2 linked regions of the Homo sapiens genome follow. The protein of the gene in region 2 interacts with the protein of the main gene of each other region in a pairwise test. Each region holds a gene or a part of one and is shown on either strand. Other genes may lie near its edges.

Region 1 (3,649 bases), on a different chromosome or scaffold from region 2:
TGTGGCAGTGAAGGAACAAGTCCAGTTCTGAAACTAAACCCAATCCAGAAACGAACTACCAAGATACGGAATATACACTAGTTTCACTCTTTGCAAACCTTGCTTTTTCCTGTCCCTGAAGTCAGCACCCAACCGGAGTAAGTATGTAGCAGAAAGTTGCTTGTTGAATTGAAAAAGGTAATAAAAAGGAAGAGCTGAAGCAGCAAAAACTGCTGAGAGTGGCAGCTCAGGACTTAGTCTTAAAAAGTGTTATCTGGTAAATTTCATGGTCTTTTCTCCCTTTCTTCTCAGGTTTTTTCCCCTTGAAAATTAATATTTTCTCTATTCATTTAATCATTTTATAAGAAACCAAGTAATATAGAGTATATTTTAACCTCCTGAAATAATAAAATGACTGTAGCTCCTTTAAAGGGTACTAAAAAAATAAGTATGACATAAATTTCATTTTTCTTAAAACTTTCACTCACGTGGCTCCTAAACTTCCAAATGCTTTTCATTTCGTCCTTCTGCAGCTTTGTGTGGAGCTGAGCTGGAAGATGAAATAGCTCCTCCCAGACTAACCAGCCTTCCAGCACCTTCTGCTTAGCTGAGACCCTGACGGCTGGAAGTTTGCCTCACAACCCTATGAGCTTCCAGAGGGCACAAGATGTGTCTTGTAAATGACCATATCCTTAGCACCAAACAGGTGCTCAGTAATCATTAGCTGAAGAAAGGACTGAATGAACGCTCCAAAGGCTGGGGCTGGAAGGGCCAGGTAGAGTAGAAGGGATGGGGAAGAGACCCCCTTTATGGGATCTGGAGCCTCAGGAATGGACAGACCCAATTTGGCCCTGTGACAGGCCTGTGGGACCACATCCTATAAAGCATAATCCCAGGATCAAGAGAATTCCTAACCAGAACCCCAGGCCCCCAACTCCTTAACCTCACCTCCTGGGGCAAAAGCCAACTCCCCTATGCCCAATGGACATTGGTTCTGGCCAAGTGGGAGGTGGGGCTAGAAGACAGGGTACTGGAGGACCTGTCTCTTTTGCAGGGTGAGGTGGTCCCTCAAAGATCTTGATGGAGGGGAGGAAGGGCTTGGGCAGAGGACTGGGTGGGCCAGAGAGGGGGGCTGGAGTGTCCCTCCTCCTGGGAGGCCAGCCAGAGAGGTCATCAGGTTGGGAGGTGGCCATGCCCCTTCTGGCCAGGGACCCTGCCCCTCACCAGCTTCTACTTCTGCATGTCACACTGCAGCAGCAACACAATGGATGGGTCACTCTTGGCTGCCTCCTTGAACTCCTCCAATGTAATCTGGTCGTCCTTATCCTGGTCCATCTTCTTGAAGATCTTGTCCACACGCTGCTGGGGCGTGAGCCCGTCCTGGTTCATGCGCATCATGATCACGGTGCCCACCATCTTGTAGATTGCCTGGTGAGGGAAGGAGGAGGGAGGTGTGAACACCCACAAGGGGCCCCGAGAAGCAGCGGGTGAAGGAAAGGGATCTGGCAGGGAGAACACTGGGGGTTGGTGAGGATACTGGAAGGTATATGTGGTCATTAAGACTGGATATTTAATGAGCAACTCTTTTTTTTTTTGAAACAGAGTTTCGATCTTGTTGCCCAGGATGGAGTGCAATGGCGCGATCTCGGCTTACTGCAACCTCTGCCTCCTGGGTTCAAGTGATTTTCCTGCTTCAGCCTCCTGAGTAGCTGGGATTACAGGCATGCACCAACACGTCCCGCTAATTTTTGTATTTTTAGTAGAGACGGGGTTTCACCATGTTGACCGGGTTGGTCTCGAACTCATTACCTCAGGTAATCCACCGGCCTCACCCTCCCAAAGTGCTAGGATTACAGGCGTGAGCCACCACGCCCAGCCCTCAACTAATTTTTTATTTAGACTAAATAATATTTATGTGGATGAAACATGCCAGAAGCCCAACTCCGTGGAGACCTTACTGATGGGGCTCCTGGCTCCCCGTATGACCACCTTCCTATCACTCTCTCCCTCTCATGGCTCTCCCACCACCGGGCCTCCTGGCCCCTCCTTGAACTCTGCAGAGAAAGGCCGACCTGCCTTAATTGCCCCTCAGCATGGAACGCTTTCCCCCAGGCATCTTGCAGTAAAGGCCTCACCCCATTCAGGCTGCTGCTAACTTTCCATCTTATATAAAGTAACTTCTCCATCACGCGCTCTCCCTGCACTTTGCTTAGTGTATCTTCCTCATAGCACCTACGGCCTGACCCCGCATGTCTTCATTCATTTATTTTTTAAAAAAATTTCTCACTAGAAGGAATGCCCCATGAAAGCAAGAACTGGCAGGCGCTCAATCCCTGCCTGTTGACAGAATGAGTTGAAAACATCAGCTATGAGGTCAGACTCCCTGGATTGGAATCAGGAACCCGGCCGTTTCCTCCTCTGCCAAATGGGGTTTGGGACAGTAACCAACCCCTCCGCCCCGTCGAGTGTCGGGTAAAGCATTTAGCCCGGGCCTGTAGCGGGGTGGTAGGAGGCGGGATCGCAGGCTGGGGAGCAGCAGGGAGGCCCCGAAGCCCGAGAGCAGCGCGGAGGCAGGGGCGGGGATGGCGAAGCGCTGGCCTCGGGAACAGCAGCGCCCGCGCGGCCCCGCACCTCGATGATCTCCAGCATCTCCAGGCGCGTGATGCGCCCGTCGCCGTCCAGGTCGTACATCTCAAAGGCCCAGTTGAGCTTCTGCTCGAAGCTGCCGCGGGAGGTGACCGACAGGGCGCAGATGAACTCCCGGAAGTCGATGGTGCCGTCGCCGTTCTTGTCGAAGGTGCGGAAAGCGTGCTGCGCGAACTTGGAGGCGTCGCCGTAGGGGAAGAACTGAGGGGGGTGCGGTGGGTTGGGGCGCAGCGACAGCCCCGCCCACCCCGCCCCCATCTCAGGGAACCTCCCCTGCACCCCGGGTGCCTCGCCTCCTCCCACCCCGGGTGCCTTGCCCCCGCCACCCCGGGTGCCTCACCTCCCCCGCACCCCGGGTGCCTCGCCTCCCCTCCCACCCCGGGTGCCTCGCCTCTTCTCATCCCAGGGTGCCCTGCCTCCCTCACCCCCGGTTCCTCGCCTCCCCCAACCCGGGTACTTGGCTCCCTCACACCAGGTGCCGGCCGCCCACCTTGATGTAGAGCTGCTGAAACTCCTCCAGGTTGAGGATGCCGCTGGGGCAGTCCTTCAGGAAGCCCTTGTACCACTGCTTCAGCTCCTGCTCGCTGAACTCAGTGTTCTGAACAAGGTCCTCCAGCACCTCGGGGGCCAGCTTGCTGTTGGTCTTCCCCATGGCGGGGCCTGTGGGACAGAGGGATTCCTCCGACTGGGTCCAGGGAAAGGCCCTGCCTCAGCCACAGCTGCCCCCTCCCCTGCCACACACAGGGCGGGGTTGCAGGTTCCTTCCCCTCATGACACTCCCCCATAATGGGGCCTCCTCTCCCCTCACAACACCTGCATTCAGGTAGGTTTCTTCTCCTAGCCCCGGGGGTCTCCCGCCTTCCAGGTCTCAGCTCTCCTCCTCACTGACCGTGCAGCACGCCACAGTCTTCATCCTCTCCCCTCCTGCTCACACCTTTCATGGCTCCCCTGCCCACAGACTAAGGCCTTGACTCCTCTCCTTGCCATTTAGGGCTTTCTGAAGTCAGCCCCCACCCTCCTTGGC
Region 2 (3,649 bases):
CCTGGAGCCCTGGGACAACCTGTACACATTCTGTGGCATAAAACCATTCTCATGTTCACGAAGAGACAGAAGCATGTACACTCACACACTGGCCGTGGAATGGGAAAAGGCTGGAGGGATGCGCTCTCCCTTTGCTCTGCTGAGGGATGGATGGATCACCACTCAGTCATGTATTCACTCAGAAAACAGACTGGGTATCCAAGGTGTGCTGAGCAGAGTATGAGGTGCTGCATTTACAAAGTCAAATAAAAGGCGGTTCCTGCTATCAGGGTAATGCCCTGGAGTTAGGGGAGACAGACATGGGGAGGAATAAAAGCAGTAAAAGATGGTGTTGTGAGGGAACCTGGGCATAGTGTGGTGGTGCTAAAAAGGAGACGGTGCTCAGAAGAAGCTCCGCTGAGAATTCAGATTGTCAGAAAATTAAAATCTCCTGCTGGCCTCTCCCCATTGTTGTAGGTTTGGGCTGTGGAGGTGAGCAGAAGGTGCCTGTCTTTACTAAACAGCCAGGATGGAGGAATCCTGACAGTAAGTTTCTCCCAGGGAAATCCAGAAGCAGCTTCCATTGTTCTTGTTTTGTTTTGTTTTGTTTTGTTTTATTATCAGTGTAATCTTTTTGAAGTTGCCACCTTTGAGAATCTGCTGACTCTGAGATATGGTGTGGATATACTATTCAGAATAATGTACACAAGCACATAAATACCAGGTTTTGTCTACAGTTTCAGAGATTTGGTGACCTCCTTGCTGTGTCCGTCATCTGTGGATCCCCTAGAGTCCAGGAACCCAACTTAAGAATCCCCCTTCCGTATGGTCTGAAATTTAACCAGCTTAGATGATATAATCGATCCGATCTGTCCTATTTCAAAATATCCTGTGCAAATTGGACAGATCAAGTGTCCAACTTATTTAGAATCCCTTTTTTCCATAAGAAAAAAAAAAAGCCAAGCCCATATTTTAAGCCAGTGATCCTAGAGGTTGTTTGTGCATAATAGTTTTACCCTCTTTTTAAAATATATGCTGAAATGGCTTTCTCAATTCTGTGTCTGACATTTGAATAAGAAAACTGAGAAAGGCCTATATGTTAGCACAGTGCATCAGGAGAAGAATATTAGTATGATTCAAGAGGCTATTTGCCATCACCCTAGAACGTATTCTTCACTCACATTAAGTGATCACCCGTTTTTCTCCCTGTCAGGGCAGGACCCTAATGGCTAGGGAAGCAATTAGGGCCACATCTAGGGTGGGTCTGGGAAACCAGCCTTTCAAGGGTTGCAGACTGAGGACTGCCTCCACAGTTTAAAAAATGTTCTGAGTAGATCCAACATACCCTGTTTGGGGGTAGCACTCTTTAAACGTCCCCAAAGTCAATTCAGACAGGATAGGGCAAAGGTTTTGTGCGTGTGCATTTTCACAGACGGGGCATCGTAGCTTTCATCAGATCCTCAAAAGAGGTCTATGACCCCCAAAGTGGTAAGCACCACCGTTTCCGGATGGTCCAGACCTAAAGGTGAGCCTACACTAGTGCCTGAGTAAACCTTTAGGAGAGCTCTTGGGCCAGATTTCCCCAGCATTCCTTGTGTGCCACGTTGGGTGCTTCCCAGCTTGCTGAGCAGAGCAGCAGCTTCACCATGGGCATCTGGTCCTTGTCTAGCACAGTCTCCACTGTCTTGGGCCTGAAAGGGGATCCGTGGTGTCAACTATAGCAAAATTCTAGGATCTTTAGGAAGCAGATTAGGGAAACAAGATTGATAATACACAAGTTTATCTTTTCTCCCTCTGGAGACCTCATTAAAATGAGATTAAAGCCATTGGGGGGGAACAAAAAAAGTAGAGACCTACGTTGACAGTGAACAGGCAATGGTTACCAATAGGTAAGTAATTTTAACAAGTTTCCTGAAGATGGAGAACAGCTGCAAGGGTGGTAATTAATGAGGCAGGGCTGAGGAAACCTTTGTATGGAGTACAAATGGAGGAACACGTAGCTGGGCAGTAGCAGGTTTGCCTTATAATACCCTGGAGAGGATGAAGATTTCAAAACTCCCGATACAACAGAGAGCAGAAGTACAAGGCAGTGGAGCTGCGTTTGCTGGCAGGCATCTATCCTCCAGGCATAAAATCAGAACACTTTTATCTCTAAAGAACTGAAAAACTGGAGAAAACATTTTTCTTTCTAGTATACGGGGGTGCCACCTCTATATCTTTCCATACTTCTGATAAACTTCCCATAAACATAGCATGCCCAAACATATTTTCTTGCTTTTTTCATACATGTGATTGGGCAGGTAAAGGGTCAACCAGACATTGCAGGAAAGCTACACACATAAATAGGAAAACCAAGATAAACATAAAAATTGATCCAAAAGAAATAGAGATGATATAGGAAACAGAAGAAAAAAATAGTAACTATCATTTGTATCCTGAGAAAGATTTAAGATAGTTATATCCATAAAAGAGTAACAGCTTGGCATTTATTTAAAAAAAAAAAAAAAGAAAGAAGAGCCGGGAAATAAAGTAAATGAACTATCCCAGAAACTAGAACAAAAGACAAAGATTCGAAAAGATAAAGATAAATGACACAGAAGACCAATCCAGGAAATCAAACATCTCCTTATAAAGGGCCTGCTGATATCAGAGCTCTGGGAGGAATCACAAGGGAGAACTTCCTTTCTCAGAGTGGAACTGGTTGATCCTGTGTGAAGCTGAAATAATATGGGCCTCTGGGTGGCAAGGGGCTATGATTACAGCTCCTTGACAGCTTTATTAAAAAGAACAGTGCTTTCTATTATTTGGCCATCATATTTTTTATATTTTGCTTCCAATATAATGATTGCTTTTGCCTCACCAAACTCCCCGTTAGCTTTTAAAGGTTGTCAGCATTTCTGAAAAGGACATTTAATTATCCTCTTTCTGCTGTACTCAGAGAGCTGCTGGTGTTCTGAGCCGGACCCTTTCTTCCTCTCTGAAAATTGTTGAGGAGGCCTTGCGAGCAGGAGTGGTAAAGAAAATGATGAAATTCCTGAAGGTAAGATCACTTTATTGGTTACAACCCCTGAAATGTACAGAAGTCTCCTATTTTATTCGGGGAACAGAATTAAGGTGGGCTTTGTTTGGTTAATGTGCTGCCATTTCTTCCTTGCTAGATTTTAAACTTCTTGGATAGGGATTTGCTTCTGCCTGTCTACCCAGACCATACTCTGAACATCAACAACAGATTGTTGAATAAATAAGAAAATTGTTCATTAGATACATCTATAAAACCTGCTTACCCCTCAAGCCTGACTTAAAAATATATGGCCACTGTTCTTGATAAAAATGATCTGAGTGGCTTTCTGTAACGTTTCTCAGGCACATTGTTCTGCTCAGGTTTTGCTACTCATGATGCTTTATACAGTTATCTGGAGAGTGTTGGATGGAACTCCATCTATGAGACATGTAGCCTGCAGAATTACCATGTGACCAAAGGATGTTGGGATTTCCCTGTGAGATGAGTGTGGTGAATCTAAGCAAGCCAGTAGAGCAGTTATCTGGATTCACCTGCAAGGGCGAAGGGGATTAATACACTAGGCTGCCATCTCAGAATCCCACCTATGATGTGTGTGCCCATGAGGTCCATACACCCATGTTAGTGTGGTGACACATGGCTTTTATTCAT

The links.
Region 1: the proteins of TTC12 (region 2) and HPCAL4 interact in binary tests that used the Homo sapiens proteins (3 or more experiments, as listed by UniProt).

Annotation. Positions count from the first base shown.
Region 1 is NC_000001.11:39,681,327-39,684,975, forward strand, and holds part of HPCAL4 (hippocalcin-like protein 4), read right to left. Parts: intron 3,286-3,649; 5' UTR 3,278-3,285; coding exon 3,116-3,277; intron 2,827-3,115; coding exon 2,611-2,826; intron 1,408-2,610; coding exon 1,210-1,407; 3' UTR 1-1,209. UniProt on the Homo sapiens protein: May be involved in the calcium-dependent regulation of rhodopsin phosphorylation.
Region 2 is NC_000011.10:113,359,484-113,363,132, forward strand, and holds part of TTC12 (tetratricopeptide repeat protein 12), read left to right. Parts: intron 1-456; coding exon 457-525; intron 526-2,917; coding exon 2,918-3,019; intron 3,020-3,649. UniProt on the Homo sapiens protein: Cytoplasmic protein that plays a role in the proper assembly of dynein arm complexes in motile cilia in both respiratory cells and sperm flagella.